Homo sapiens: one gene and its partners. The protein of the gene in region 4 interacts with the protein of the main gene of each other region in a pairwise test. Each region holds a gene or a part of one and is shown on either strand. Other genes may lie near its edges.

Region 1 (9,372 bases), on a different chromosome or scaffold from region 4:
CTTTATTTTCTTCACCTACAGAAATGAGGACTTTAGCCACTTTATAAGGTTATCATTTGAGATAATAATGTAAAGCACTTAGCTTAATGCACATGGTAAGCAAATAAATGTAACTGTTACAGTGTTAGATATAAAATATCTTCCGAATTTGTCATTACCTTAAAAGGAAACTAATTTAGCATAAGCTAGTCTGTTGTTGATGTTGTTTTTGAGATGGAGTCTCACTCTGTTGGCCAGGCTGGAGTGAAGTGGTGGGATCTTGGCTTACTGCAGCCTCCGCCTCCTGGGTTCAAGCGATTCTCCTGCCTCAGCCCCTCCCAAGTAGCTGGGACTACAGGCATGCAACACACACCCGGCTAATTTTTTTATTTTTAGGAGAGATGGGGTTTCACCATGTTGGCCAGGTTTTGAACTCCTGACATCAAGTGATCCACCCGCCACAGCCTCCCAAAGTGTTGGGATTACAGGTGTGAGGCACCGTGCCCAGCCTAGCATACGCTATTCTCTATAAACTTATGTTGACTGCTCCCCCAAGTGAGGTTGCTAGACAGAGGAAAACTTATTCTGTGAGCAGAAGAAACTGGATACTCATGATAGACTATGATGAGCTGTATAGGTCTCTTCAAGTTAACATTCTAAAAAAAAAAGTATCAGACCTTTAGAACTGCAACCCTCAATCAACAAATAATTCACAACCAAATCAGTAAGTTCAAATATGTACTCTAAAACTTACATTAAGCTTGGAAGGATACTAACGTATTCACAAGAGAGAAACAATCATTAAAATATCTCATACAGAATGGAGGGAAAGGGGATGTCAAGATAAGCAACAACATTCCAAAGGACCACACCACTGAAACATCTTGTTTGTTTTTCATAGCAAAGCCAAATCAAATCCTAAGGTACATGCCTCAAGCAAAAAAAATTAAGAAAATGAAAGCAAAATACAACTAGAATTTAAATTTTTTACTCTGAACTGTGCCTAGTTGGTTGGTGATATTTAATACATATTAAAGATAGGCACATCAGTTTGTAAATCCACTGGATCTCCAGAGCATGGACCACAAACAGCTATCCCTAAGAAGAAACCTCAAAACCACAAATCAGGAAATAAAGTGGGCAGCCTCATTTCCTTCTGTAAGTCTAGGAAGGAATTTAGAAACACTAATGTTTTAAAGGAGAGATTTCAATATCAAACTAGAAGAATCCCTGCATTCTCCTTTCCTTGGTCCCAAAGCAAACAATTTACAGTTTGGGAAAACACACACACACACACACACACACACACACACACACCCCTACCTGTTTTCACTAACTTCAACAAGACACTGCCTAAGTGGTGGTTTTAATCTATCAAGAAGCTATATATCTCCTTTGCACAGTTTGGGAAAGCACACACACATACACACCTGTTTTCACTAACTTCAACAAGATACTGCCTAAGTGGAAAACACACACACACATACACACACAAAACCTGTTTTCACTAACTTCAACAAGACACTGCCTAAGTGGTGGTTTTAATCTATCAAGAGGCTGTATATCTCCTTTGAGAATTTGATAAAAACAATGGACACTTTCCCCAGGGGGGAAAAAAATTCACTCAAACAAAACTGCATATAATTTCAGGGGTGGGAATGAGGAAGACCCCTGAAAGTTGTTGACCCTTAGGCCATGAACCCCAAGTCATCATCCAGGATTAAGGCAAATCATAATCCAAGGAAAACCAGTTTATCAATTTGGAAAGAAACTAAAGTAACTGAGGCAGGGATTTAATCCACAAAATACATTAGAAATCTTTTCTCTTTTCTCAGATAAAAGTGTGTTAGACTTGGTAGTTGGGAGAAGACGTGGGTCATGCTAAGCAAGGAAAACAAAACAAAAAACACCACAGGACAAACGAAAGAAAAGCAGAATTAAGGCAGCAGTAAAATATAGTAATCTGTAGCCGCTCTGAGAGAACAGCAATGAAATGGCCAATTCGGCCGGGCGCGGTGGCTCACGCCTGTAATCCCAACACTTTGGGAGGCCGAGGAGGGAGGATCATTTGAGGTCAGGAGTTTGAGACCAGCCTGGCCAACACGGTGAAACCCCGTCTCTACTAAAAATACAAAAATTAGCTAGGCGGTAGTGGCGCCTACCTGTAAACCCAGCTACTCAGAAGGCTGAGACAGGAGAAAAGCTTGAGCCTGGGAGGTGGACGTTGCGGTGAGCCGAGATCGTGCCAATGCACTCCAGCCTGGGCGACAGAGTGAGACTCTGTCTCAAAAAAAAAAAAAAAAAAAGAAAAAAGAAAAGGCCAATTCCTGAAGCCTTAACAGACGGCTGACTTAAGGTAACCATTTCTGGTGCACATTTCTATGCCAATTAAGTTAATTAAATGGCAAACATGAACACACCCTTACAGGTGAAAGTATGAAAGCAAAAGTTTATGCGAAGTTCTGGATCTCTTCCGGCTTTTCCTTATCAAATAATAATGTAGTTAGATGAATTTTATACTTTAGGAGAAAACAGGGTAGGGGCGGGGGACAGAAATCCTAAGAGTGGCCAAAGGATCTGCAGGAAGTATAAAGTGTAAACTTTTTGAAATCAAAGGGCTCAAGAGGAAGGTAAGAACAAAACAAAGGAAGTAATAACAAAATAAAGTAAAAGGGAAAAACGTCTAGCATCTAAAAACTGTTTTTAAAAAATTATTTCCTTTTCCTAGACACGTAAACAGTAGTAACTTGGCAAACAGGAACGGAGCAGAAGACAATCGAACAACTCCCTTTCCAAAACTCCAGCATTCCTTAGTCAGGCTTGGGACATTTCACAGGCAAGACTCCTCTCTGCACCACTGCCAGATGAATCTCTCAGAGGGACTGTCACTATCTCCCTTCCTCCCACTGCGGGAGAGAGGAAGCTGGGGATGCAGGGAGAAGAGGGGAGAAATGAGGGTTGGACAGCAAGCCTGAAGGTGGCCCACTCCGACACTTTGTCAAGAAAGGTCCGGATTCTGGATCCTGCAACTCCTTTTCCCACCCAATGTATGCAAAGCCAAGAGAGTGCCTCCCTGCAAGGGCCGGTCCTACACCTTCACTCGACTGTTTCGGGGGCACACTCAGAGGGACAGAAGGAATGAAGGACAGAAGAAACCAAAGGCATAACACTTGGGCAGATACGGCACAGACTAAGGAGAGGCGTGCCCTGTGAAAGTTCGGAACGGTGAACCCGTAGGCAACGTGCCCGCCCCACCAGCCACCTCAAACCATCTTTCCCCCGCCTTTTCCCAGGCGAGCCAGCTCCGCCCTCACCTTTCTTAGGGTAACTCGGTAGCTTCTAAGTCGAGGCTTATCCTTTCCGCCGCTCTCTGGAATCGCCTCAACCCTGGCAAAAACTGAGCGGAAACGCGACCCGGACCTTTTCCTTCTTCCCCTTCCCCCACGCACCTCGGCTGCTCGGGGGCGGGGAGCAACTGCAGCTGTCACAAATTCACACTGACCAACCGCCGAGGACAGTCGGACCGGCGACCTCTCAACCCAGCCTCCAGAACCAGAACCAAGAGCAGCGAAGCCGGAAGTGAGGAGACCGGAAGTAGCGTTGTCCCTGGCCCTGGACGGCCTCTCTCTCCCTCAATCCGGCCTTGCCCGGCCACGTCTCGGTGGTGTCAGCGCACCTCCCACGAGGATCCCTCCGCCCTTCTCCGGGAGGCGGGCTACGCCCCTCCCTCTGCTGCCCTAGCAACCACATCCGGGACTCCGGCGGTGTCGTTGCCCGGGTAATTTTCTGGCAGCGACCTAATGCGCGCGGGGCCAGAGGCACCGGCTAGAGCTGGGAGCTTGCGGAAGGGCGCCCCTGCCTGGTCTTGAGAGGTCGAAGGTCTCCAGGAGGCCTCCGCCTCCCTCTTTTTCATTCACACACCCTAGCCTCACACGTTAGGAGGACCCCCCCAACAGACCGTGAGCTGGTGCCGGGAGGGTGGAGGTAGATGTACCTCACCTCCACGCTACCACAGAAGAGCGAAAGCTGCTTTCTCAGCCACCGGAGAGCACGAAGAAGGTTATTCCAGTCCCGGGGGGAAGGTGGGGGTGGTAGGGAGAATGCGAAGATAAGGCAGCAGACGGAATGCGGGCGCTGCCTCGCGCTGCCCCCGTGCCTGGGGAGCCCTCTCCCTTCAGAAAGGCTAGACCCCCGGGCCCGGCATCCCTGAGCTCTTACTTGCTCTGGATTTGTGATCGCTTTTTGCTTTTTGCTCGCTCTCTCACAGTAGATTCCTTGATACTTTTCTTTCCGGCTCCTCTTTCTTTTTCCGGATGACCGAGCTCTGCTTTCTTTGCTTGCCCCATTACTTCTTAAATAGATCATTGTTCTGTCACGGAAACTGCTGAACAATTCGCTCTCTCAGAGCCCTTCGTAGTTTCCTAAACGGGGCCCCAACCTGCACTACTCTCCCCATCCCCAGAGCTCAGTGGTGCGAAAGCGTGGCTCCCCCGTGGCGCTAGATAGACCTGAAGTTCATTTACACACTGTACCATACAGTTGGTCCATCACAGAATATCCCTTCGAACTGCTGGACTGCTTTTCCTTTGACAGCTTTGAATGCTCATTTTTACTCCCATTTCACTTGTAGAAATGCGAAGGGTAACTGTGCACACGGCGAGATTTACCCTTCTTTAGACCGTACTTCTCAGCTGCCTTTACTTGTCACAGTAGCTGACAAGATATTTTTAATGACTAATGCCCAAAGGCAGAGCTCTACCTCTACAGATTTCCAGGGAGTTTCAGTGTAGTGAAATATCCCTGGCAGGTATCTTCCCCAGATCTGTGAATAGTAAACACCTATGGCACCATAAATGTTTCCAATGTATAACAATATTGATTGAGCTCTCTAGGATACCACCTCTTAAAAAAATAGTACTGAAATTCCAAAACATAAATCTCTTATCTTAAGTGGTTCTGTCTTAAACAAAAGAAAGGAGCAAATATATATGCCAACCCACTCAAACTGTAACTTCAATTGTTATAGCTTACTGTGGATTTTTCTGTACAAAGCCATCTTGTTGGTTTGGAGACCATTAGTCTTCTCAATTATAAGAAAATAATCCCAATCTAAATTAATTACTGCTGTAATTGTGTAGGAACTGAGCAACTACAGAACTTGCAGCTAAGTACAAGTGTTGTTCCTAGGGTTTCAGAAGGGTGACTTGGAGGAAGTGTACGGTAGGACTCAGCGGTGCTTGAATGATGTGGACAATGAATACTAAATTGTTTTTGCTGGCTGTTATCTTAAAGATTCCTGCTAGCTGTCTCTTGAGTTTGGAGATGCTTAGCTTGACTAAAGTTAGTCTAACTATTAGACTGTCAGACTCTGAAGTGTTTCTTATTTTGGAAAGGTGAAGACTTGCTTTAGTTTGTTCATAGTTTCCTTGGCAGCTGCTGATGGTTTTGATGGAGATTCAGATGGATTTGGAACTAATGCTAACTTCTGCTTGGTGAAGATGCTAACCAAGTTAGATACTCTTCAGTGAATTCTGGTACTGTGTACGATTAATCCTCATCCACAGTATTACGCTGTGCAAGGCTATATATACACAGGATTAATCTTTCCATGATTTCCACTGCCCTGAAGGAAATTAGAATGTAGTCTGGCTCCAAGAAAACACTAGAAACTACTTCAGCTGGTGATGGAAAATAGTGGAATTCTATACATCCTTTGAGACAATGGAAGCAGCAAACCAGCGTTCTTTGGATTGGGGAATATTTTTGGTACTAACTGAAAAACATCATTTTAAGCCTGGCCCTGCTTAGAGGAGACTTGTTTTCTCTTCCCTCTCTCCCTCTCTTCCTTTTTTCCCTCCTTCCTCTTTTTCTTTCCTCCTTTCCTTCTTGTCTCCCTCCCTTCTCCTTCCTTCCTTCTTCCTCTTTTTCTTTCCTCCTTCCCTCCCTCCCTCCCTTCCTTCCTTTTTTCCTTTCTCCCCTCCTTCCTTCCTTTTTTTCTTCCTTCCTTCCTCCCTCCCTCCCTTCTTTTCTTCCTTTCTTCCTTTGCCCTAAAACTTGGGGGACCCTGCCTGCTCATTTTGTTTAGAATAGAAGATTACTACTTTTCTCTGAATTGTCATTTATTTTTAGAGAGGTAAGAAAAAAGGGAATAGCTGCCTTCCATATATACTTATGACATGGAGATTATCTACTCATTTAACTTTGCACTGCTATTGGCTGTTTATTTGGCTTTTGAAAAATCAGGTGCTATTTATTCATTGGGCTTGTGGGGAACTCTAGTAGCCCTGAATGGCATTTGTGGCATACTCAATGAAGTCTAATTCTTTATCCTGGCATTAAAGGCTTACCAAGATCTGGCCTCAATCTTGCAAATGAGCACTCTCTTATATACCTGAAGGAAAAGTGCTAATTTAGCCAACTAATAGAGATAGGTATAAATACCAATATAGACATAGATATGAAACTTTAGTTGCAAAGAAATGTTTAATATGCTTCAAAGTGCATATTTCCCTCTTCCATGCTTTATTGTCTATTCTTATCAGCAGAAATGTTTTCCTATTTTTCCTTACCTGTGATGTACCTATCCATCCTTTACAGTTGAGTTCAGATGCTACTTCTGTCATGAACCCATTATTTATCCTCCCTGTGAGAATTCATTTTTCCCTGTTTTTGGATCTTACAGCCTTTGATTTGAGCCCCCATTTCAGTCTGCTTTATACTACTGTCTTGCATGTTTTCCCATGATAAATAAGATGGTTTTTGGGAAACTGAACTTTGGACTTACTTGATTCTCTTATAACACCAGGAAATTGGCCAATTCTAGTTGAGTTATGGAAATATGTTGTCTGCTGCATACCAGGCAAGTTCAAGAATACCAGCAACTCCTGCTACTTAGGGTAATGGTACAAGTAGGATTAAGTGGATATAGTTGCTATCTATCTGTAGAAGACAATGAGTGAGTGCTGTCTTAAGTTTGGAAAGTAGTTGATTCTCTGCAGAGGGGTATAAACTACTGATGAAAGGAGAGTGACTCATTACTCCTAGAGATTCTGAATGGGAAGAATGCCAGCTTTATGTTTTCTGATACTGATTTTTTTTTTAATAACTTGGTGCAAAAGTAGAACATTATTCTAAGATGACTGTTGTGGAAGAAAAAAAAGGTAGAACATTAGAGTTGTAAAAATGTTTTTAACTATAAAGAGGAAAAAACTGAACTTATTTATAATTCATTTACCTAGAGAGAACATTCAACATTTTGGTCAATGTATTTTTTTTCTTTATATCTATGTAGATATATATTTCTTCATTTATTTAACAAATTGCTACTGACACCCTATGGTTTGCTGGAAGTGAGCTGTGTAGGAATAACCATGAGCCTCTGCTCTGATGTAATTTTTAGTGTATGTTGTATTTGTTGACATATAATTTTATATTTTGCTTTTTTCACTTAATGTATCATGGAATTTTTTCATATCATTAAATATTCTCTTTGTGTGGCACAATAGTATTTCAGCATGTAGATATTTTGTAATTTATTGAATGAATCCTTTTTGTTGCATATTTTCAATTTTGTCTGTAATTATATAGCAATGCAGGGAATAGTCCCGTGTAGCAGGTGGAATTCTAAGATGAACTCCAGTGACACTTACCTTGTATAATTCCCTCTCCCTGTGAACATGATGGGATATTACTTCCATGATTATGTTATGTTACTTGCAAGGGAATTTTGGAGATATAATTAAGGTTGCTAATCAATTGACTCTGAATTAATCAAAAGGGCAATATTCTAGGTAGACCTAACCTAATCAAGTGAGCACTTTAAGAACAGAGAGTTTTCTCCTGCTTGTGGCAGTAGAGGAAGTCAGAGAGATTCAAAGTGTGAAAGAGACTCTACAGGAGGAATGTTCTCCATTGCTGAAATGACAATTTCCCACAGACAAGGACCTGAGGGAAGCCTCTAGAAGCTGAGAGTAGTCCCTGCCAACAGCCAACCAAAAAAACTAGGGACCATAGTCCTACAACAGCAAGGAACTGAATTCTGCAAACAATCTGATTGCGCCTGGAAGCAAATTCTTCCCCAGAGCCTCCAGATAAGAGCCCAGCTTCTGACCAACATCTTGATTTCTACCTTGTGAGACCCTAAACAGAGGACCCAGTTGAGCCCACCTGGACTTAAGATCTACAGAACTGTGAGATAATAAATGGGTGTTGTTTTAAGGCATTGAGTTTGTGGTAATTTGTTGCATTAGCAGTAGAAAACTAATACATTTGTAAGAAATTATTTTTACATCTATAATTATTCTTTTGGGATAAAATCCTTGATATAGGCCGGGCATGGTGGCTCACACCTGTAATCCCAGCACTTTGGGAGGCCAAGGTGAACGGATCACGAAGTCAGAAGATGGAGACCATCCTGACTAACACGGTGAATCCCCGTCTCTACTAAAAATACAAAAAATTAGCCAGACGTGGTGGCACATGCCTGTAGTCACAGCTACTTGGGAGGCTGAGGCAGGAGAATTGCTTGAACCCAGGAGGCAGATGTTGCAGTTAGCTGAGATTGCACCACTGCACTCTAGCCTGGGTGACAAAGCGATACTCCCTCTTAAAAAAAAAAAAAAAATCCTTGATATAGACTTGCTAGATAAAACGTTATACACAGTTTTAAGGTTTGTATATCATATTGCAAATTTGCCCTCCATAAGCGTATTGTAACAATTTATGTGCCTCCTAACAACCTGTTACCTCACCCCAGCAAACGCTAGATACTGACATTCTGATAGGCAAAAACAAAAATGTTTTTTTTAAAAGAAGATTATGTTTTTCTTATTAATAGTAGGATTGACCATTGTTTTCTTTATTTGAAATTAATTTGGTGAGTCTTTTTTGATGATTTGCATATTCTTATTTTCTGATTAGCTTAACCATTGACATAGAGAAAATATTCCCTAACATGTAGAATAGCATTTCTCTGCTGTAATATTTTCAAGAGGGAGAATGATTAATGAGCTTGAAAGGATGACTATTCTGAGAAATATTAGCTGCTGCCATTACTCCTTGCAAAAGAATATCCCAGATGTTATACTGTTGGAGTTTGGAGAATGTCAGCTTCATTGATCAGGTAGTATTGATGCCTTATTCTTTTCTAGGGAAAAAGTCTAATTTGTCTGTTTGGCATTAGAAATGTGATTATTTTTAGGAATAAAGATGTATCTTATCATGGAAAATTGTAGCTTTGACTAATGTTAACTCAGGGGAAAAACCTAATCTTCCTAAATAAAGTTATCACATTTTCAATTTTCTCAAGATAATGAGCAATCTCTGATAGTATATATTATGTCACTTTAACCAGGATGGGAAAAGAAGAAATTCAAGTTACTTTTTCTATAATCC
Region 2 (8,415 bases), on a different chromosome or scaffold from region 4:
TGGGGTGGGTGGGGGTGAAGTAGAGTGGAGCAGAAAAAGAGAATTTTTCTGATGTTGAAACTCTTATTTTTAACTTTTTTTTTTTTTAAGACGGAGGTCTCACTGTGTTTTCCCAGGCTGGTCTTGAACTAGCCTCAAGCGATCTTCCCACCTCAGCCTCCCAAAGTGCTGGGATTTCAGGTGTGAGCCACTGCACCCAGCCTCTGGTGTTGAAACTCTTTAGGGGTGTAGGAGAGTAAAGAAAAAGAACCAGCCTGGACAACATAGTAAGACCCCATCTCTACAAAAAATAAAATTAGCTGGTTGTGGTATCACGTGCCTGTTGTCCCAGTAACTTTGGAGGTTGAGGTGGGAGGATTGCTTGAGCCCGGGAGGCAGAGGTTGCAGTGAGCAAAGATTGTGCCACTGCATTCCGGCCTGGGCAACAGAGTGAGACCCCATCTCAAATAAAAAAAAAAGAAAAAGAAAAAGAAAAGAAAAGAAAAGAGAACAGCCCTAAACCCAACGTTAGTCAATCTGCAAAAAAATTATTTTGTTTAATGACTACCTATCAAATGTATTATGAGGTTGCAGAGCTTGGTAAGCAAAGGGAAAAAAGGGGAAGAATGTATTATGAGATATAAAAAATGAATTAGAAAAAATTTAATGAGTTAGGAGACCATGAGAATCAGCCAAGGTATAATAATAACTAACTAATTATTGTGTTTGGCAGTATTCTAAGGACATCATTGTATTACCTTTTTAAATCTTGACAAGAACGGATGAGGTGGGTATCAGCCACATTTTACTCTCAGGACGATTGAGGCACAGAGAGGTTAAGTAACTCACCAGAAGTCACACAGCTGGAAACGGTCTCAACCTTTACCCACTGCCTCAGGCAGCCTCTGAGTACTGAGCAGATGCTGGCATTGGAGTTAGAAGGCATTTGAGGCTTACAGCTGGGCATGTACATGGGCCTTGTGGTCTCTGGGAAGTTGTCTAACCTTTCTAAGCCTCGGTTTCCTTATTGTCAAATAAACATAATACTTACCTGGCTGATTTATTGTGGGGATTCAATTAAGCCCAATATGCCTGAAGGCATTTTGTAAACTGTGGAGCACTAGTTCAGTGATTATTGTTATAATCTGACTGGGGAGACGAACCCGAGACAGCAGAAGTGTGAGCAATCAAGCAGGCTGTGATTAACTCTTCCTTAGAGGGATAGATGTGGTACTAGGTAATGGGATAATTACCAAGAGCACGTGGATAAAGCACAGGCTTTGGGGTTGGGAGCCCTCCCCGAGGACTGAAGCACATCTTGTAGCATGAGTTAGTGCTTGCTGGGTGGAGGAGGGGATGGGGCATTCCAGTGACAGAAGAACATAAATAAAGAGACATCTAGACTAGGCAGATAAACTTCCCAGCGGGTGCAGTGGAGACTCATTGGCTGGGGTAGACAGAGAGGCAAAATTGGCCACTCCCTCCTCTGAACTATAGCAGGGCTGGTGACCTCTCCTAGTTCCTGTGACCTTGTGCTGGCATCATTTCTCTCTGTGGCCCCCATTGAACACTGAGCTTATTGAGGGCAGGTCTGTGTCTTGCTCTTGCCTGCATCCTGAAGCTCATGGTTAGTGGTGAATGGGGTCAGCAAGGGAACCCTGGGCCTAGGTGGGTAGTTCAGCCCTGGGCCACAGGATATATTAATAATTACTTTATTTATTTTTATGTAAGAGATGGTCTCGCTCTATTGTCCAGTCTGGAGTGCAGTGGCACCATCATAGCTCAGTTTTGCCTGGGACTCCTGGGCTCAAGTGATCCTCCTGCCTTAGCCTCCTGAGTGCTGGGACTACAGGAGCATGCCACCATGCTTAGCTGATCTTTAAAATTTATTTATTTATTTATTTATTTATTTATTTATTTATTTATTTGAGACAGAGTCTCACTCTGTTGCTCAGGCTGGAGTGCAGTGGCGCCATCTCGGTTCACTACAACCTTCGCCTCCTGGGTTCAAGTGATTCTCCTGCCTCGGCCTCTCGAGTAGCTGGGATTACAGGCGAGCGCCACCACGCCCGGCTAATTTTTTGTATTTTTAGTAGAGACAGGGTCTCACTTGTTGACCAGGCTGGCCTCGAACTCCTGACCTCAGGTGAGCCGCCTGCCTCAGCCTCCCAAAGTGCTGGGATTACAGGTATAAGCCATCGTTCCTGGCCTAGAATTTTTTTTGTAGAGATGGGGTCTTGCTGTGTTGCCCAGGCTGGTCTTGAACTCCTGGGCTCAAGCAGTCCTCCCGCCTTGGCTTCCCAAAGTGTTGGGATTACAGGTGTGAGCCGCCGTGCCCGGCCTATAATTACTTGTTTTCTTATAATGCTCCAGGGTCGCTGTTGGTCTAGCCTTGCCTCCCGCATACCCAGTCTAGAGCCTGGCCACATGCCCATCAAAAGACTCTCACTGCTCTGCCTGCCTTCTTCTGTCCTGGCGTCTATACCCTCAGACCAGCCTTGCATACCTACTCCTGCCAGCCTCCTCCAGGAAGCCTTGCCTCCTCAACTCTCCTGCACCATCCTCACATTTCACCTGGCCACTGTCACTGCCAGAGGAGGCACCACTGACCTGCCTCATGGCCCAGCCACTGCACCCATCTCCAACCAGACCCTTGGTGTGTTCCCCACCCAATCCATCACAAGCCACTTTCAAGCTTTAGGGAAGTGAAAAGTACTGCCTGCCCTCAAAAAAAAAAAAAAAAGAAAAAGAAAAGAAAGGAAAAGAAAAGAAAACCCAGCCGTAATAAGGAGACCTTATCAGGAGTACTTTACAGTTTATAAAGCATGTTTCTAGCCATCATTGGGACCACACGGTGGTCAGTCATTATCATTTTCATTTTATGGATGAGGACATCGTGACTCAAAGAGCTTGGTAACGTGCCCAGGGTCATCCCACGGGTGAGTGGAAGGGCCAGGATTCAAAACCAGGACTCCAGGTTCCAAGTGTCAGGCCCGTTCGACCACACTGTCCTCCCACCAGCCAAGAGGGCAATTCTGGAATCAGCCAGGAGGGCTGTCAATCACAGGACAAATAAAATAGTCTGTTTTTACTTAGCTGGAAAATGGTTTTCTCCATGGTTTGTTTATTTCTTCAACATCCGTTTAGTGAGCACATACCGTGGAGGAGACACAGAGATGAGTAAGATAAAGAGACCGGCTCTGGGGGGCTCGTGAGTCAGCAGGGAGGCAGACTGGCCACTGCGGGGCTCCTGGACAAGCCTTGGGGCTCTGATGTGGTCAGGCCCCGAAACACCAGCATCACCAGGGCCATTAGGATGTTGGGCACCACCCAGAACTACTGAATCAGGACTTGTCGTGTTCACCACAGCCCTGGGTACTCTGTGTACGCTGATGTTTGAGCAACAGTGCTCTGTAGTAGGTGAGTTCTGGGATTAGAGGAAAAGACACAGAGTGGGGAACAAACCTTTAGAGAGTCAAAATCTCTTTGGGTGAGCCGGGCGCAGTGGCTCATGTTTATCATCCCAGCATTTTGGGAGGCTGAGGCGGGAGGATGGCTTGAGCCCAGGAGTTCGAGACCAGCCTGGGCAACATAGCGAGACCCTGTCTCTACAAAAAAATCAAATCAAATCAAATAATTAGCTGGGCATGGTGGTGCTGCCTGTAGTCCCAGCTACTCGGCAGGCAGAGACAGGACGATTGTTTAAGCCCAGGAAGTTGAGGCGGCAGTGAGCCGTGATCACACCACTGCACTCCAGACTGGGTGACAGAGCCAGACCCTGTAAAAGGAAAAACAACACAAAAAAAGCCAGAAACAAACAAAAAAAGTCGGTGGATAGCGCATACGTCAGAGCAAAGGATCTTAATGCATCCTGCGTTGAGAAGAGCCTTAGATCCTAGAGAGAAAGAGATAGAAACAAATATTTATTGAGGGCCTGCTGGGTACCAGGAACATGCTGGGTGATTTATATCTATGATTTCATTTTAATAGCTCAGGCTCAGAGAGGCTAAGTGACTTGTCCAAGGTCACACAGCGAGTGAACCGAGAAGCCAGGACTTCACAACCAAATGGCAAAGTCCTTTTTTTCATGTTTACGTTGCGGGTACTTCTGCCCTCTTGCTCATGATCTTAAGCAGATGCTCAGCCTTAGTTCAGCAGCTAAAAAATTTTAGGGCTGGGCTAGAAGGATCTGCGGTTCTCAACCCTGGCTGGAGAGCTCTTTGAAAAAATAAAATACTGTTTCTCTGGGCCCCCTGCATAAGGATTCTGTCTCATTGGTATGGGGTGATCATTGACATTTTGTAAAGTCCCAGGTGGTTCTCATGTGCAATCAAGATGGTGACCGTGGGTCCTGATGGGTTCCCACACCCCTGGCACCCCACGGACTTTGGGTGGCTCAGTTGGTTCTGGTTATACTCAGAAAACCAAGATGGCCCTAAGCCTGCTTCCTGCAGGTAAGAAGCATCTGTGTCAGGTTTGTTCTTTAGGAATGCAAATGCTCAGAGCCAGGCTGTGTAGCACCCTGAGCCTTGAACCTGGCGCCCCACCCCTTCTGCTTCTGGAGCAGGTGCACAAAGAAGTCACCCCTTGCCTGAAGTCTGAGCAGGTGCCTTCTTGCAAGGAGAGCTGCTCGTGAACCCCATTTTTCCATTTACTTGACAATCAGAGCTGGCGTTTTTTTTTTTTTTTTTTTTTGAGTTGGAGTCTCTGTCACCCAGGCTGGAGTGCAATGGCGCCATCTCGGCTCACTACAATATGTGACTCCTGGGTTCAAGTGGTTCTCTCACCTCAGCTTCAGGAGTAGCTGGGATTATAGGCGTGCGCCACCATGCCCAGCTAATTTTTGTATTTTTAGTAGAGACGGGGTTTCATCATGTTGGCCAGGCTGGTCTCTAACTCCTGACCTCAAGTGATCCGCCCACCTTGGCCTCCCAAAGTGCTGGGATTACAGGCGGGAGCAACTGCGCCTGGCCCAGAACTGGCTTCTTAAACTTCTGTACCCTTCTATCTCCCCAACCTTGCTCCTTTAGTGGGTATTGAAAACTTAAGAAGGAAGTTAAGAGCTTTCTTTTGGTCCCTGGTTTTGTACTGTCCTGAGTTTCTTCCCAGTGATGGTAATGGTAATCGTCAACATTTACTGACCAGGCATGGTGGCTCATGCCTGTAATCCTGGCACTTTGGGAGGCTGAGGCGGGCGGATCACTTGAGGCCAGGAGTTCGAGACCATCCTGGCCAACACGGTGAAACCCATTCTCTACTAAAAATATAAAAATTAGCTGGGCGTGGTGGTGCATGCCTGTAATCCCAGCTACTCGGGAGGCTGAAGCAGGAGGATCGCTTGAACCCGGAAAGTGGGGAGGTTGCATTGAGCCGAGATCACACCACTGCACTCCAGCCTGGGCAACAGAGAAAGACCTTGTCTCAAAAAAAAAAAAAAAATTACTGCCCACATACTGTGTGCAAATGGTAAAGGCCTTACATGAGCCACCCTTTTCGATCCTTGCAACACATGTATGAATTATAATTCCTATTTTAGGCTGGACACGGTGGCTCACACTTGTAATCCCAGCACTTTGGGAGGCCGAGGCGGGTGGATCACCTGAGGTCAGGTGTTCAAGACCAGCCTGACCAACATGGAGAAACCCTGTCTCTGGTAAAAATACAAAATTAGCTGGGCGTGGTGGCGTGCGCCTGTAATCCCAGCTACTTGGGAGGCTGAGGCACGAGAATCACTTGAACTCGGGAGGCAGAGGTTGCAGTGAGCTGAGATCGCGCCATTGCACTCCAGCCTGGGCAACAAGAGCGAAACTCCGTCTCAAAAAAAAAAAAAAATCCTATTTTACAGAGGAGGAAATTGAGGCTTTCAGGGGTTGATAGCTATGCTCTCTGTTTGTCCTTCTGTCACTGCCTGGCACCCTCTGCTCTCTTCCTCCTTATGCTTGGGGTCCCCAAGGCGTTGTCCTCACCCCACTTCTCTTTTACCTCCTGTCCACTTCCTTTGCCCTCACCTCTGTCTGATGGTTTCTGTTCTCACTTCTGTGGCACTGACTCCCCACATCTCCCTCCTGACTTCCCAGCCTGAGTGACCACTTCCCACTGGACAACTGTACCCCCTCGGGCGGCCCCATGGCAGGACAATGGTCCCCACCTTCTCTCTGGTGTCAGTTCTGAGCCCTCCCTCCTTCCTGCCCTCACAGCCGCATTCTGTTGAGTGCCTCTGTGAGACTTGTCTCACCCATTCATCCTGTGAATCTTGCATTTCCTGCTCTTATTACATCTTGCCTGGATTTTTGTCATCTCATCCTGCCTGCCCTCTAAATCACCTGTTCTGGACAGTGTCCCTCAAATCCAACACTGTGATTTTTGTTTGTTTGTTTGTTTTGTTTTGAGACAGAGTATCGTTCTTGTCAACCAGACTGGAGTGCAGTAGCGCGATCTCGGCTCACTGCAACCTCTGCCTCCTGGGTTCAAGCTATTCTCCTGCCTCAGCCTCCTGAGTAGCTGGGATTACAGGCGCCTGCCACCATGCCCAGCTCATTTTTGTACTTTTAGAAGAGACTAGGTTTTGCCATGTTAGCCAGGCTGGTCTCGAACTCCTGACCTCAGGTGATCTGCCCACCTCAGCCTCCCAAAGTACTGGGAATACAGGCGTGAGCCATTGCGCCCGGCCGCTTTTTTGTTTTTTAAGAGATAGAGTCTTGCTGTGTTGCCCAGGCTGGAATGCAGTGATGCGATCATAGCTCACTGCAGCCTCGAATTCCTGGGCTCAAGTGATTCTCCCACCTCAGCCTCCTGAGCAGCTGGGACTACAGGTATGTGCTGCCACACCCAGCTAATTAATTTTTTTTTTTTTTTTTTTTTTTTTTTTGCAGAGACAAGATCTCACTACGTTGCCCAGGCTTGTCTCAAACTCCTGGCCTGAAGCGATCCTCTCGCCTCAGCCTCCCAAATTGTTGGGATTATTGAGTCACTGCACCTGGCCCAACAATGCTTCTTCTTTTTTTTTTTTTCCTGTTCTAGTTTCTTATTTTTATTCACTTGTTAGAATTTTGGTTTTTTTTTTTCTTCTGTTTCCTCTACACTTTTTTTCCTCAACTTTTAAGTTCAGATGGTACATGCGCAGGCTTGTTACATGGGTAAACTGCATGTCACTGAGTTTTGGGGTATGAATGATCCTGTCACCTAGGTAGTGAGCATAGTACCCCATAGGTAGTTTTTCACCCCACTTCCCCCCACCATACTCCCCCTTCACTGACAACTACTTTTATAACTGCCCTTTTTCAAAAACTTTTGCTGCCTTCTCTGAGACCCTGCCTGATATGGCACCATCAGGGTCCCTCGTCCCTGGTCCCTGGTCCCTGTCCTTTTTTTTTTTTTTTTTTTTTTGAGACAGAGTCTCGCTGTGTCTCCCAGGCTGGAGTGCAGAGACCCCATCTCTGAAAAAGAAGATTAAAAAAAATAAAAATAAAGGGTTGGTGCTGCACGTTAAGAAGGATGGGGCGTGTCCCTATGGCCCAGGAGATCAGATTCCCTGCCCCACTTGGGCACTGAAAGGGTTCCCCCTCTGGCACTTCTGCAAGGCACTGATGAAGACTGTTTTCTGCTCCCCATTCATTGGCCCACTTATTCCACTGCCTCAAGGCGAGGTGTGGCGGAGACCTGGGTGTGGCAGCGGGCACAGCCTTGTGCAGTGGGCTGGCAGCCAGCTCTCCTCCTGCATCAAGGAGGGTTGATGACCTGGAGAGATGCCCACCTGGGAAAGAGAACTTGTCAGCCCCACCTCCCGGCAGGGTGGTGGCTGTTTCCTGTTTTCCTGCCTGGGCAGCCAGGGAGGAGCTCTGTTCCCAGTGTGTGGGCAGGACTTGTGAGGGGAGAGGGACCGTGATTTAAGGTGTCTGCTGGCTCAGAGGAAGAGAGAATGGCATCTTTTCTTGGATCAGAAAGGTTGCTGCTGCTGCCTCTGCTAATACTGCCACAAGACAGCTCAGGAAGCCAGTGTGGCCTATGGCTTGTGTTTAACACAAGTAACACTATCGTTTAAAGGCATGTTGACACATTACTCCTTTGAAGCCACAGAGCAAGCATGCAGTAGATGGTTGTGGTCAGTTTTCAAATACAGACACTGAGGCTCAGAGAGATTAAAAGACTTGTTTGAGAGCACTCAGGAAGTGGCAGAACTGAGGTTTGAACCTGGCTTGTCTGGCCCCAAATTTTATACTTTCTTTCTGTATCTCCCTTTAAAGCGGAAGCCGGGTCAGTGGCTTAGATATGTGTGACTTAGAAAAGGTACAGACATTTATTTTGCTAAGTTTTTTTTTTTTTTTTTTTGAGATGGAGTCTCGCTTTGTCACCTAGGCTGGAATCCAGTGGTGTAATCTCAGCTCACTGCAACCTCCTGCTCCTGGATTCAAGCAATTCTCCTGTCTCAGCCTCCTG
Region 3 (7,064 bases), on a different chromosome or scaffold from region 4:
AAATACATGCAAATAACAAGATTTTCTTACCTCTCAGTTGTTGAAACACTTTGCTTCTTAAAATTGATATGTTGAAACTTTAATTCTTTTATCAATCCCAGCATTTTGAGATCAGTCTTTATTAATAAAACCTGTTCTCTTTAATCAGCTTAAAATCCAAAGTGTCATATTTACTGGTCCTGGAGACAAACTTGTTCAAAAGAACATCAACGTGCAATGTTTTAAGGTCTATCTTAAGAAGCCCTGGCCAAATTTTGATCCTAACCTTGAAGTATGCCTTGAACTTATTAACATGGCCATTATAAGAATAAAATATGTAGTTGTGTCTTAATGGAATTAATAAATGTCATTTCACTACTGGTGTTCTGTTTCAATGTATAAGGACTATAGTGATTTAAACTCATCAATGTGCCTTTGCATAAAGTTCATTAAATAAATATTGATGTGGTATAAATGCCCATCAGATATGCTTAAACTTGGTTTTCAGTTGAATGAAGTAGAGAATGTCCTCAGGACCATCAGCATTTTAAAGGTTATGTGACTTTTGCTGATTTCTCTGAGTTCAAGTTAAGCATGAAGTTAGTACCTCAAGCCTGTGATTTTTCCCTAGGGATGATACAGACCCAAGAGGCTACAACAGAACTTAAACTGGCTTCGTAATTAGAGTTTTTAAGATAATTGTTTGTTTTTCAGCAATATAGACTGAAAAGATCCAAGCATATTTAGCCACTTGCTTTTTTGTTTCTTGTTTTGTTCTTCTTTGGATGCCTGATTAGTATTGAAAGATAGAAATATTCTATGAACTAATTAGGACAGATTGTGTTGTGTTTCTCTACCTCATCTTGTTGATCTCTGGAGCATTAAAATCTATTTAGTGTTGTCATCAGTGTGGTACTTATGAAATGTAAGCTAACAGCAATCTCAGAAGGGAGGCAGTGAAGCATAGCAACTAGGCTCTTGTTTCTTCAAGATGGCCCCTGTGGGGCAGTGCATAGATGGGGGTGTAAAGAGAAGCTGTTGGCATTAAAATGAGCTAGATAATCAGCCCTTGTTGAAGCATATTCCATGGTATAAGAGTAGCACAGACATGAAACATAGATAAAGAAGGAAGGCTTAATAGACTAGAAGACTTCCACATTGAAGTATTATTAACCCATTGTATGTATATAGGGGCATGATCAGAGTCTCTATAACTTCCTGATTAACAATACAGTGTATCTTGTTACCCAGCTGTCAGTCTTTGAGAGCTTTCAGTAAAATATAGTAAATTCTTTCAGCATAGGCTAATGTGTGGTTACTGAGATGAGTGTTGTGTACTCAGAACCGTAGCAACATTTTTATGAATGGTAAAAGTACAAGAGGAGGAAAAGTTAAAATTAGAAGAAAAGTACAAGTTATTGCTTAATCATAAATCACACCAGATAACACATTTTGTTAATTTCATTAGCTATTACTGGAAAGGACCTTAACGATTATTTACAGAAAGGGGAGTGAAATTCATTGAGGTTCCATATCAAGTGGGCAACAAAACTATTACTAGCATTTTGATAAAAATTGCCCCTAATGAAATCTAGTCACTCAACAGTAAAACAACAGCTGGTTTACACTTGAAATTATGAGATCAGAATTGGGCACTTTGGGCTTCCGTACTATGTTTTGCTTAAGTTTTTTTTTTAATACTAATATGGGCTTTTTCAGTAGTAATATACCAAAACACTTCTATTTTAATCTCTGTTTGCTACTTCAAAACCTAATCCTCCTCAGATGGGATCATGAGCATAAGAGGAAAAGAGAAGAGAATGAATACTTGTTGACCTCTTGATGTGTATCAGATGCTTTAGAAATGTAATTGTATTTAATCCTCAAATACCTTATAGGTATTATTATCCCCTTCTTACAGATGAGGAAAGTGAGGCCCAGTTTAAATAACTTGCCCAAGGTCCTTTGGCTAGTACTGGAAGGAGTCAAGATTTAAACACAGTTCTGTCTGAATCCAGAACTCAAAATCTACATTGCACATGTTGCTTTCCTGGTGGTTCGGTGGAATGGACTGCAACGCATTAGATACTGCTGTTATTCTTCCAGGCCACCGCTCAGCTAAAAATAATTGTGTGTGTGTGTATATATATATATATGTACACACACACACATATATATACACACACACATATATATACACATATACATATATATACACATATATATACACACACATATATATGTATATATATACTACATTCTTGATCCTAAGTCTTTTTTAACTTAAATTTTATTACTTATACAGAATTCTTATTTATACTTTAATTATAGGTGTGACGAAGAGAAAGAGAGTAGGGAAATACACAGGCAGTGGTTTTAAGTGTAGATGATGGCTCCTTAACCCAGTGTCATTAGATAATCAAACCTAAAGTCTTCCCATATTAGGCAAGCGCAATTCTCTATTTTGGACCCTTCCCATTCTTCCCTTACCTTCTGCTTTTCGTACTGAGGAATTTCGTGTGATTTTAGATAAAGTGATAATGAGATATTGAGCAAATAAGAAAATAGAGGTAATGCTATAAAAAACTAAGCTATGTACACTTTCAAAATGCATGTTTCTTGCATGCTTTTTACTACTTAATTGCATTCTTTGCTAATTTCCTTTCCTTGCTGTCTGTTCTTTTCTAACAGCTGAAGAATGTTCTGCTGACTCTGACCTCAACTTTCTTATTCCTGTTGCAGTGGGTGTGGCCTTGGGCTTCCTTATAATTGTTGTCTTTATCTCTTATATGATTGGAAGAAGGAAAAGTCGTACTGGTTATCAGTCTGTGTAATCAGTTAAATCTAGTGTTTGTTTGTTTTTTTCAATTAGAAGTTACGTTTCCATTGGCTAAAAGCCAGGACATGCTGTGCAATAGATTGTTTAAGATATGCAGACTAACTTCAGTGAGTTCCTAGCTAACTTGGGCATGAGTACACTTATTTAAGACAAAATATATTAGGACCAATTTTTTTCTGTTTTTTTTCTTCCTTTGTTAAAGTATAATTAAAAGAAAAATTGTGGCTTAGAATTTTTTAAGTAAATAATGATTTTAAGCCCCTGGATCCAATTATGAAAGCATTTTTGCTGATGTGTAATTTTATATGTTACAGTTACTTATATTTTACTACTTTGATGTTATTTGCAAAATCAAAGGTGTTAAAGAATTTAACTTGCTTCAGGAAATAAATTCAAGAACATAGTGGATTCATTTTCATTGGTGGCAGACACGAAATTTGGTTCATGATAAGACTTCCTTTCCCCACCTCCTGATCAGCATTATTTAAATCTGTATTTTTCTGTTAGTTAAGAAAGAAATGGCTTCATGATATTGTATTTAATAGCAAAAGTTTGGCTGTCTTCTTCATTACTGTTAATAGCTACTATATTTTAACAAGGAGATTTCTTTTTTTGTTGTTGTTGTTCTAGAGTTTGGAATATACTGATTATCTCAGACTTGACATTTATACTGAAGGATGAAGTAAGACCTCCAGCTTTTTTTAAAAAAGGTGTTGATTTGGAACACCTGTATGGGTTATGGTTTATTAAGGTTATGGTTTAGAAAGTTTTTTTCCCTCAGAGCCTTAACTTGTTAAGAAGGTTCATTTATCCTGCACTGAAAACAAAAACTCTATATACTTTGTTTGTGTGCCTCCTGCACTCTCCCATTCCCTATGTGAATATGCTCTAGTTGATATTTTTAATATATTGATTTCTTTTTTCTCACAGCAACAAGTGCTTACTCTAGAGGTTAGTGGGCCCTGATATGTCATCAGTCAGATGCCTGCCTAGCCAAAGCTGGACTAAGATTATTCTGTACATTTGTTGATCTTGATATAGACTTATATCCCTGTAGGGACTGCTAATGGCTCCGGCTTCTGGAGTAAGGTACTGGAGACCACTCATCCCTGTGTCTGCTTGATTGGTTCAGCTGTTGAATTGCCCTTTTATTTGGAAGCAGTGTTGAAGTTGTCTAGGGTTCAAATGGCTGCTTTGTACACCTGTCATTAGTATAAGGCAGATGTTTATTTTATCAAGCTATTTTATCTCTACATTTAACTAAAAACAAAAGTTCCCAAAGATCTGCCTTCACTTCAGAAATTTTTTTTGGATTAAAAAAATTAAGCCTGAACCTTAAATAAAGTGAGTTGGTTATTCATTCCAAGGATTAAGTCCCAATCTACCTCTCAGCACAATGCAGAAGCTCACCACTGTATTGCTGCCATTAACTCATGCCAGAACCCTTTGCCAATAACTGGAATTACAAATTTTTGTTAAAGAAAATTTATCAAGATCTTTCTTTACTGCCTTCTCTATATGTACATCTCAAAAACATGTACATCTCAAAAACTGGAGTAGAAAGTTAGATTGCTCAACTACAACTCCTCTAGAACTCTATAGCTCTGACATACAGATTCACACTCTCCTCTATTTGCTAAGTATGTAAAGAATGTTTTCTTTTAAAATGTTCTCTTTTGAGAACAACTGCTTATTTGTTATAAAAGCATTTGGTTAAAATGATGTCATCATAAAAAACAGTGGCTTTGTTTCAATACATATTTTTGAGATGATTATCTAGAAGCCAGATTAATAAAATCAGCTTGTGACCTTGCTAAGCATATAAACTGGAAATTCAGATACATTCAAAATTATGGGTTCATTTAAAAGTGTTCTACCTTTTGGGTATGAGACTAATATCACTAATTCCTCAATAGTTATCATGGCTCTATCTTAATTAATTAGAAAATATGTGTGTTTAATTCTTTGAGAATTAAAATAGAGAATATTAACAGAGGGTTAAAAACTGCTTCAACTCCAATAAGATAAAGGAAGCTCAAAATCTATGAGCTGAGTGTTCAATTAGCTTTGCCTACTGAGTTCAATTTTATGTCAATACAACAGTGGATCAGACAGTACGACTTTGAACTGGTGAATGTAAACAATTGTTTTTCACCTAAGCTGCTTTGGAAGAACTGATGCTTGCTGCTAACTAAAGTTTTGGATGTATCGATTTAGAGAACCAATTAATACCTGCAAAATAAAGCATACTGTGGTACTTCTGTTTGATCTAGTATGTGTGATTTTAGATTGATGGATTAAAAATTAATAAAGATCATACATTCCATACCACTATGGATAACCTCATTTTTATTCCATATGCTCAGCCTTAAGAGCTTAGACTTAATTGTATAATCTAAGTTTCTTGAATTCTAGTCTCTTGGATTGTCAACAGGAATCATAGGATCTCATAGATCTGCAACTTAACCAAGTCCCGTCATTAGGAAGGCACTAGTACAGAACCTTTAGTACAGACACCTCAAATAGGGGGACCTACTTAGTCATGGAAATTACAAGAAAACATCAAAAACAAAATATGGAAATCTAACAAATGTAAGAACATCATAACAAACGTACTTTCCGCGTATGTCTGTCTGCATTGATGAACTATACTAATTGTTGAAGTTCATTTCATTCTGAGTGAGATATACCTCAGGGATATGGTGGGGCAAGGGGAGGAGCTATCCATTTTGTGAATTTCCTTTAAATTCCTTACAATCTAGTCTAATGCTTAATTTTTATATAATTGGATAAAACAACAACACATACATAAACATACTCCTTTTTACATGAGAGGTATTTTTGGTGGGAGAAGGAATTAGACATTGGCTCCCTCCATAGTTCCAGAATAATAGGGTTTCATTTTCTGAAAGACGTTTAATAGCTTGTAATTAAGTCAAAAAATGGCCTTCATAACTGCCACCTCATGAGGCCTCTGAAAGAAGCACTTTAAGTTGACTGATAATTAGGAAGAGTGGTTCGATATATGTTGCTGTGAGGGTTACAGTGTATCTAAAAAGTCAACTTGGAGGGTCATCTTTTTAACTTCAATGTGTATACTTTTTGAATGCCAGAACTGCCTTTAGAATTCTGATGAAATGTTTTTCCTTTCCTTTGTTTTTACTGTCTGCATGTATTTTGATAGCAGTGTAAGTTTGGGTCCCTTTAATTTCAAGAGGTATGCATAATGAACAGGAGAAATCTTGCCATACAATGCATCTTTAGTAGGAAAAATCCATAATTTTATTGAGCAGTTACAGTGCTGTGCACTTTAAACACCTTATTTCATTTAATACACCAACTCTCTGAGGTTGGGGGTATCATTTCCAGTTTACATATGGGATAACTGAGGCTTGAGTTGGTTACTTAACCAAAGTCACACAGGATTAAGTGGCAAAATGGACATTTGAACCCAGTTCTGTTTGCCCGCCAAAGACCATGCAGTTAACCACTATACATCTGCCTTTTGCAGAAGCAATAGATTTTTTTAAAGCACATGCCTTACATTAAATGGTTACAGAAATCTGACTTCTGTACTCTTCTATCTTGTATGTAGTTGCCTTATAAATATTCTTCAATATTCTTAAAATAACTTGAGTTTTATCCAGCCCACTTGTGGGGCAGATGGATGTTGTGGCAGCATGCCTTTTGGAAGATCAAAACCAAGGCCAGTTTGCACTGTACCTCATCAGTAATATTAAGCCCGAATGTCACTTTTTTCAGGGTAGCCTCATCTAGTTATTCTGATCACATATCATTGTCATTCTGCTCTCAAACTCTTCTGTACCATGAATCATTTTGACTGTGCATTAGTGTGTTTAAGAAACTAAATGGAACTGTCTCTCTTCTCACTTTCCTTAATACCATTCATACCCCTTCCCTTCATCCCTCAGCTTTAAGCGCATTGTAACCATGACACTCAACTATCTTTGCCAGGTGGTTCTGAACCTTATTAATACACAGTTCCTATTCCCAAATCTAAGGCCTTTTGGGAAGGGTTTCAAGAATTTTTTTTTTTTTTTTTTTTTGAGACAGAGTCTCACTGTTGCACAGGCTGGAGTGCAGGGGCGCGATCTTGGCTCACTGCAACCTCTGCCTCCCAGGTTCAAGCTACTCTTCATACCTCAGCCTCCCGAGTAGCTCCCAAGTAGCTGGGATAGCCACCACGCCTGGCTAATTTTTGTATTTTTAGTAGAGACGGGGTTTC
Region 4 (7,000 bases):
CTTCCTTGGTGCTCCCTCTGGGCCCCTGATCCTTTGTGAAGGCCAGTCAGGTTTCCCATTCCTATTGTGTCTTATAGTCCACTTGGTAGATGGCGTGATCCGTCTTTACACAGAGGGAGCCTCATCTCCTCCTGGGCCACATTCCTCCTGCAGCTCCCATCGCTCCTTGGCCAGGACCCAAAACCTTCTGTGACTGACCCCTGCTGACCTCATTCTCTCTGCTCCTCCAGTTCCAAGCCTAGCCCCCCTGCCCATCTTGCGGCTCACACTCTTGCCCAAGCTGTTCTCCTCCACCAGGATGCCCTTGGCTCCCTTTTCAGCTTGGCAAATTCGTGCTCACCCTTCAAACCCCTACACAGATGACCTCCCTTGGAAAGGTTTTCCTGATGTCGCTGCCTCCTGGAACCAGGTGGTCTTGCCTCTCTGCGCTGCCTTTGGGACCTGTATATTTGTCAGTGTGGCATGGCTGCCTGCCTCCCGTTGAAGGGCAGCATCTTGACTTTACTCACCTTGAGATCGCCTGTGCCCAGATGGGCCTTTGGCCTGGCCCAGAATCGGTGGTCATCAAGGGTGTACAGAACTCACCAGGACCCAGGAACCTGTTGCAGATAAAATCACTCTCCCCCACGTTCCCAACTTTTAGACTCACAGCCCTCTTACTTCCCAGCATTCAAACTTCTAAATGGCCTGTATGTATTCACAAAGCAGGCAAAAAGCCCCCAGAGGAACACCACCCCCCACCCCTGCCTCTGGAATACATTTGCTTTGACTTGGAATTGTAGGTGAAATTCATCTTCCTGGCCTACTTCAGTTTGAATCAGTTGGCTAGCCAGGTGCGGTGGCTCATGCCTGTAATCTGAGCATTTTGGGAGGCTAAAGTGGGTGGATCACTTGAGGCCAGGAGTTGGAGAGCAGCCTGGGCAACATAGCGAAACCCTATCTCTACTAAAACTACAAAAATTAGCTGGGCGTGGTGGTGCACACCTGTAGTCTCAGCTACTTGGGAGGCTGAGCTGGAGGATAGCTTAAGCACAGGAGATGGAAGTTGCAGTGAGCCGAGATCGCACCACTGCACTCCGGCCTGGGTGACAGAGTGAGACCCTGCCTCAAAACAAAACAATTGGAATTGGATGGCATTTAGTGAGCATCTACTATATGCCAGATATTGAGCTGTGATCTCTAGGGGTAAAGAGACATGAACTACTGACACCGTGCTTGCCTTCAGAGGGCTCACAATCTAGTGAGCTTGATTTCTGTGAGTGCAGAGCAGAAGCTGAGGTGGGAACAGAGAAGTAAAAAATGGACACACCAGAGGCAGAAGAGTGACAGCCTCCCAGCTGTTTGGGGCAGTTGAGTATGGTGGGGAAATAGCTCAAGCTGTCTTTGCAGCCCCTGAAGACATCACTGTACCCTATTGAACCATCTCAGGGTGATGCTATTGTTACGCTGATCCCTGCAACGCTTGCCTGTGCCCCAGCCCAGGATCCTGGCAGCTGCAGAGAAAATGGCAGTAACACTACCTCAAACCAGGACCACGCCCTCAGAGCCTGCACCCTGGGCCACCTGGGAGTCAGAGACCTTCACCTGGGCTATGGGGTTCTGGGTTGAGGCTGGGGTTCCCGGCCTAGGGAAGGGCTTCCGGGTTGAGGCCGGGGGTCCTGGCCTAGGGAAGGAGATGCCCCTGTGTGCTGGGTTACAAGGTCATGGCCCTGGGAACACACTTCCTTTTCTTTCTGGGTCATTTCTGCCTCTGCAGTGAAGGATGCCACAGGGTACACCCTCTCTGCTGTCATGACTCAGGACAGGAGTTCCTGGTCACAGCTGAGTCTTCGGATGAGGTGAGGGGTAGCATGCTCCTGTGCTCTGTTGCCTAAGGCAGGGCAGCCTACAACCCACGTTAGAAACAGCGTCAGCACTAAGGGCTAAAATAAAACTACTTTCAACATTTAAAGGGGTCATCTTCATTCACCTGCAAATTCTTTTCTTTAAAACCACCCCTTCCCTCGGGGCAGGATACGTGAGGCCTTACGCCTGACGGGCACCAGAGGCCCTCTTCCGGAAGTAAGCCCTCACTGCAGTGGCATGACCGTGGGGTGTGCTGTGTGGTGCTGAATCTCAGGAGTGATTCCCCACACCCCTGAACCACAACCGCAGTGGCTTTAGACTTAAACAAGAGCCTCTGGTTGCTGGGCCTGCCAGCAGGAAGATGGTAACCCTGTTCTAGAGTTAGCATCTGCAGGGGGCTTGGGGTAGTGGAGTGAGATGGTGAGACCCAGGCTTGGTCTCCCTGGCTCTTGCTGCATGATGGGGAGACCACACACCTGATCTGCCCAGGAAGGTCCCGGTTGACACCGACTGCCTCTGCTAAGTTATTAGGAGGCCCCTTTCACGCTCGAAGATACCTCATTTGGATGATACAATGTTACCTTACCTACTCTGTGACCTTTGACAAGTCTGGTTGCCTCCGTAGCCCTCAGCTTTCTCATGTGCAAATGACAGATGAAGTGCGCATATCTTGGAATCTTGGAAGTGATGGGGGTGTTTGATGGGACCTATCTTGTCAATGCCCTGCAGCCAAAGACCACTGGGAGCACACCTCACCTGTGGTTAACAAGCTGGGTTTCTTCTTGCAGTAAGGGGGAATGAACACCACAGCGAACCAGGGGGAGTCTCTGAAAGAGGTATTAGAAAGGACTTGTTACTGGATTTGGGCCAGTGCTCAGTGGCTTGGCGAGGGTTTAAGAAGCAGGCCTTTGCTCTGAACCGGCTGCTGTCAGGAGGCGGGGCTCATTCTATGACTGGGTGTCTTCTTCAACCTTATCTAGGATAAAATAAAATCATAAAACACTGTGCTTCATGCCCCTGGCCTTGCCAACTTGCAGTCCCCTCTAAGAGCATCAGAGCCTCTGGGGCACCCCCTCTCCACTGGGAGAGGGGCAAGGTGCTGGTGAAGGTCCTGGGGAGAAGGCTGGGAGGCTCTGAAAGGGTCAGGAGGGGCCTTTTGGGGTGGCAAAGCCTGGGATTCTAGCGTTCAGCTCCAGGCTCCAGGTGTGTGTGCCAGGGTGAAAATTCCTGCTCTTGGTCACTCTCCTGTCAGGTTGGAGGGACTCTGGAAGTTTCCACCCTCTGGAGAGGGAAAGGCCCTGGAGGGATGGCCCCTGCCCTTAACTGGAAAGGGTGGGCAAGGGAAGGCAGGGGGCCCAGGGGCAGGGAACCTGGGCTCTGCCGACCGCTCGCCATGACCTTGGGTACATCACAGCCCTCCCTGGGCTCCTCTATTCTCTGTAAAATTGGGTGAGGGTGGGCAAGATTCCACTTCTGCTCCCAGTCCCTGAGCACTGTGTGCCTGTCACCATGCAAGACACCGTCACCCCTATTACCCTATCTAGTCCGTGAAACAGCCCTGGGGGACCGATCTGTCGACCCCACATTGCAAATGTTTGTTATAAATCCCAGGCTCCAGAATCAGAAAGACCTGGTTTTACCTTCAGCCTCAGCCAGTTCCTTGCTGTGTGGCCTTGGACAAGTCACAGCCCCTCTCAGAGCCTCAATGTCCACATTTATGCAGTGGGGAGGATAATACCTCCCTCTTGGGCTTTTGTGGAGAAGAACTGGGTATAATGCCTCAGGCACATTTAGGTGCTTAGACAGTGGTGGTCTTCTTCCCTCTCTGGGTCTCTTCCCTCATCTATGCATCAGGGAGCCACTGTCCTGCCTATAAATAAAACAATAGGTGAGTGCATTCACCAGGAGGAAGATGCATGTAAAAGCTTCTTGCAAGGGGTAAAGAAAGTCTGTGTGCCCAGTGCTGAGAGGCAGGTGAGCCAACAGCAAGTGCAGGGACTAAGGTGTATAAAATGCCTCCTGTGGGGCAGGAGGGGAGCAGCATGCTGAGTGAGAGAGGCAGCACCCTGGAAGCTTGGAGGAGGAGCAGGATTGCTTGTGCTGTCAGACAGGTGTCAAACAGGGTTCCAGGCAGCTGCTGAGTGTCAGGTGCTTCCCATAAATCATTTCATTGAATTTAATTTTTCCATCTGCCCTGAGAGATGGGTATTACCAGGGGAGAAACTGATATTCAAACATAGGTCCTCTGAGCCTGTGCTCTTCCCACGATGCCACCTGGTCCACGTCATAAGACTCAACAATGCACCTGTTGTGCTGTGCACACTTTTCTTCATTTCATCCTCGCAGCTTGCAAGGTTGGTGTATTGTCCCCATTTTATTTTTATGTATTTATTTATTTATTTTGAGATGGAGTGTTGCGCTTGTTGCCCAGGCTAGAGTGCAATGGCGCAATCTCAGCTTGCTGCAACCTCCACCTCCCGGGTTCAAGTGATTCTCCTGCCTCAGCCTCCCAAGTAGCTAGGATTACAGGCGCCTGCCACCACACCCAGCTAATTTTGTATTTTTAATAGAGATGAGGTTTCATCATGTTGGCCAGGCTGGTCTTGTACCCCTGACCTCAGATGATCTACCCGCCTCAGCCTCCCAAAGTGCTGGCATTACAGGTGTGAGTCACTGCACCCAGCTGTCCCCATTTTATAGATGAGGAACTGAGGCTCAGAGAAGCTGAATAATTTGCCCATCCTTGCGGAGAAGAGCTAAATGGAGGAGAGGAGGTAGAGCTGCAGGGCTTTCTGTTCCTGCCAGGAATCATCCAGTAGCCCCAGGCCATTCTGACCCTAGTGGGACAGGAGAAAAATCAGTATCAATAAGTCAGGCAGCAAGGTTCCACTGAGCATCTCCCTGTGCTAGTGTGGAGGGAGACACCCCCCTGCAACATCTTCCATGACTGCCTATTGCCCACAAGATAAAATTCAGATTCCTCAGGCTGGCATTTGAGGCCCTTCATGATCTGGCCCCAACTGCCCCATCCAGCTGAATCATCTGCCATGTGCTCCCGTGCAGCAGCCCCGGCATCCTCACCTTTCCAGCCACCCTGCCTTGGCTCATGCTGTTCCCTCCACCCAGGTGCCCTTCATCCCCTTCTCTGTCATCCCTCAAACCCTACCTGTTCCCTGGAGCCTGAATTAGCCCTGCTCTCCCCTTCCACGGTGGAATCCATCTCCACTGCACCCTCTCCTCCGAATCCCTCCTAAACTGTGTGCCCCGCTCTGTCCCCAGCACTTCTGAATGACTAGCTGTGTGAGTACCAGTCTCCCCACATGGACTGGGAGGTCCTTCAAGGACAGGGGCCTCTTCCCCGCCAATACTTCTATCCCCAGGACTTAGCAAAAGCAAGGAACAGTAGTGCTGGTGGAACAGAATTGAACCGAACCGGGTGCCCACTCTGAAGGCTCATGGCCCAGGGGCATGGACTCCTAGCCCAGGGCTGAGGAGCACCAGCTTTGGAGTAAACAGCGCTGGGTTTGAGACTAGGCTTCCCTACTGGCCAGCTCTGTGACTTTGGCCAGGAGACTTAGCCTCTCTGGCCCTCAATTTCCTTATTAATAAATTGAGGTTAGTGATATCGACCCAATAGGCATGTTGTGAAGATTGGATGAGATCATGCATATTGAGTGTAGCATGTGCCTAGCACCTGGTGAGCCCCCAGTAAAGTCAGTTATCATTGTTAGTGTTGCCTGCAGAGATGATGTTACAATGTGTAGACATCAGGTGCCCATGTGCACCTGGGTCGTTCAAGCCTACAAGCACTGTGTCATCCAAGCACATGTATAATTCGAGCTTTGTATCGTCAGTGCTTCCAAGTGCCTGTCAATGGACCCAGCTGGGCTGGTGGCATCAGACTCTCCTGGGAAACTTTAAAAATCTAGTGTCCTAGAACCATCCTCAGAAAAGTCTGGGATGGCCTGGGTTTTGCATAAGCAAGCCTGGTGATTCTTAAGTGCTGAAGGGCTTAGTTGTTTGTTTTTCTTAAATGAGTTATCAAACATTGGATAGCTGGTAGGCAACCCAGAAGAGGTGGGAGTTGCAAGCCAGGACTTAAAACAGTAGAATGAAGGAGTGAGGGTATCTCAGGCAGAGGGCATGGCATAGGCAAAGCCTTGGGGGAAGGAAGGAGGAAGAAGGAGACTGTCCTGGCTGGAGTGGTGGAGGACAGGGTCAGAGAGGGAGGCCGCAGCTTGGCCATGGGGCTTCTTGAATTCCTGCCACGGAGCTCAGATTTGTTCTGATGGGCAAGGGGGATTAATTGATGATTCTTGAGCAGAGGAGTGACATGAAAGAAACATTCAGGTCATATACTAACAGATACAAAAGGGAAAGGTGGCACGTATTGGTGGCAAGAAGGCTGGTTTGTGCCCTGCGGCAGGGATTTCATTCTCAACCTGCCCTGTGAAAGGTTTTTTCCACTCATGTCACTGGGTGGATGCCAGGTCAGGACTGAAGCTTGCAGAGCCGGTGTCCTGGATTCCTCCTTGCTGACCACAAATCCAGCAGAGCAGGGCAGGGAACCCTGTGGCAGAGGCTGTTGCTTCCCGCCAAGACACCAGGGCCCTGGCCAAGGCAGTGCTCAGTTCACAGATGACCCAGGACAAGGGCAAATGAGGGCCCCAGTGACTCAGGAAGTCCCCAGGTCAGAAAATGGGCCCCACTGGTGATTCTGCAGATAGTCCCTGCACATCCCGGAGAAGAGCAGACACGGTGTGGTGGGTAGGTGGATGAGACCAGGCTTTGGGGATCAGATCAGCAAGCCTGGGGGTAAGGAGGGCTAGATTTTATCTAGTCATGTGTTCATTCATTTGTTCACTTATTCATTTATTCTAACCACAAACACTATGCACCTGCTTTGTGCCACCCCCTGTGCTAGGTACTGGGGGAAGAGACATGCATCTGACCCATGCTTGTCTTGGGGGAACCTCTACTACCCCGGGCTAACTGCAGAGTGAACAGTGACAGGTCAGTGCTGAGCAGAGGGAAGCACGGCGGGGATCTGACCCCACCTGGAGAGTCGGCAGGAGCTTCTCAGAGAGGAACTCCCACCAAGCTATGTCCTGAAGGATTCGCTAGGGAAGAGCAGGGAGGGAGAACAGCTTGGGCG

What was found.
Region 1: the proteins of BSND (region 4) and ARFIP1 interact in binary tests that used the Homo sapiens proteins (3 or more experiments, as listed by UniProt).
Region 2: the proteins of BSND (region 4) and HIP1 interact in binary tests that used the Homo sapiens proteins (3 or more experiments, as listed by UniProt).
Region 3: the proteins of BSND (region 4) and LAMP2 interact in binary tests that used the Homo sapiens proteins (3 or more experiments, as listed by UniProt).

The regions. Positions count from the first base shown.
Region 1 is NC_000004.12:152,774,148-152,783,519, reverse strand, and holds the start of ARFIP1 (arfaptin-1), read right to left. Parts: upstream 3,567-9,372; 5' UTR 3,294-3,566; intron 1-3,293. UniProt on the Homo sapiens protein: Plays a role in controlling biogenesis of secretory granules at the trans-Golgi network. Mechanistically, binds ARF-GTP at the neck of a growing secretory granule precursor and forms a protective scaffold.
Region 2 is NC_000007.14:75,727,738-75,736,152, reverse strand, and holds part of HIP1 (huntingtin-interacting protein 1), read left to right. Parts: intron 1-8,415. UniProt on the Homo sapiens protein: Plays a role in clathrin-mediated endocytosis and trafficking. Involved in regulating AMPA receptor trafficking in the central nervous system in an NMDA-dependent manner. Regulates presynaptic nerve terminal activity.
Region 3 is NC_000023.11:120,424,233-120,431,296, reverse strand, and holds the end of LAMP2 (lysosome-associated membrane glycoprotein 2 isoform A precursor), read left to right. Parts: 3' UTR 1-2,670; coding exon of another isoform or gene 2,671-2,813; 3' UTR 2,814-5,149; downstream 5,150-7,064. UniProt on the Homo sapiens protein: Lysosomal membrane glycoprotein which plays an important role in lysosome biogenesis, lysosomal pH regulation and autophagy.
Region 4 is NC_000001.11:55,008,933-55,015,932, forward strand, and holds part of BSND (barttin), read left to right. Parts: 3' UTR 1-7,000.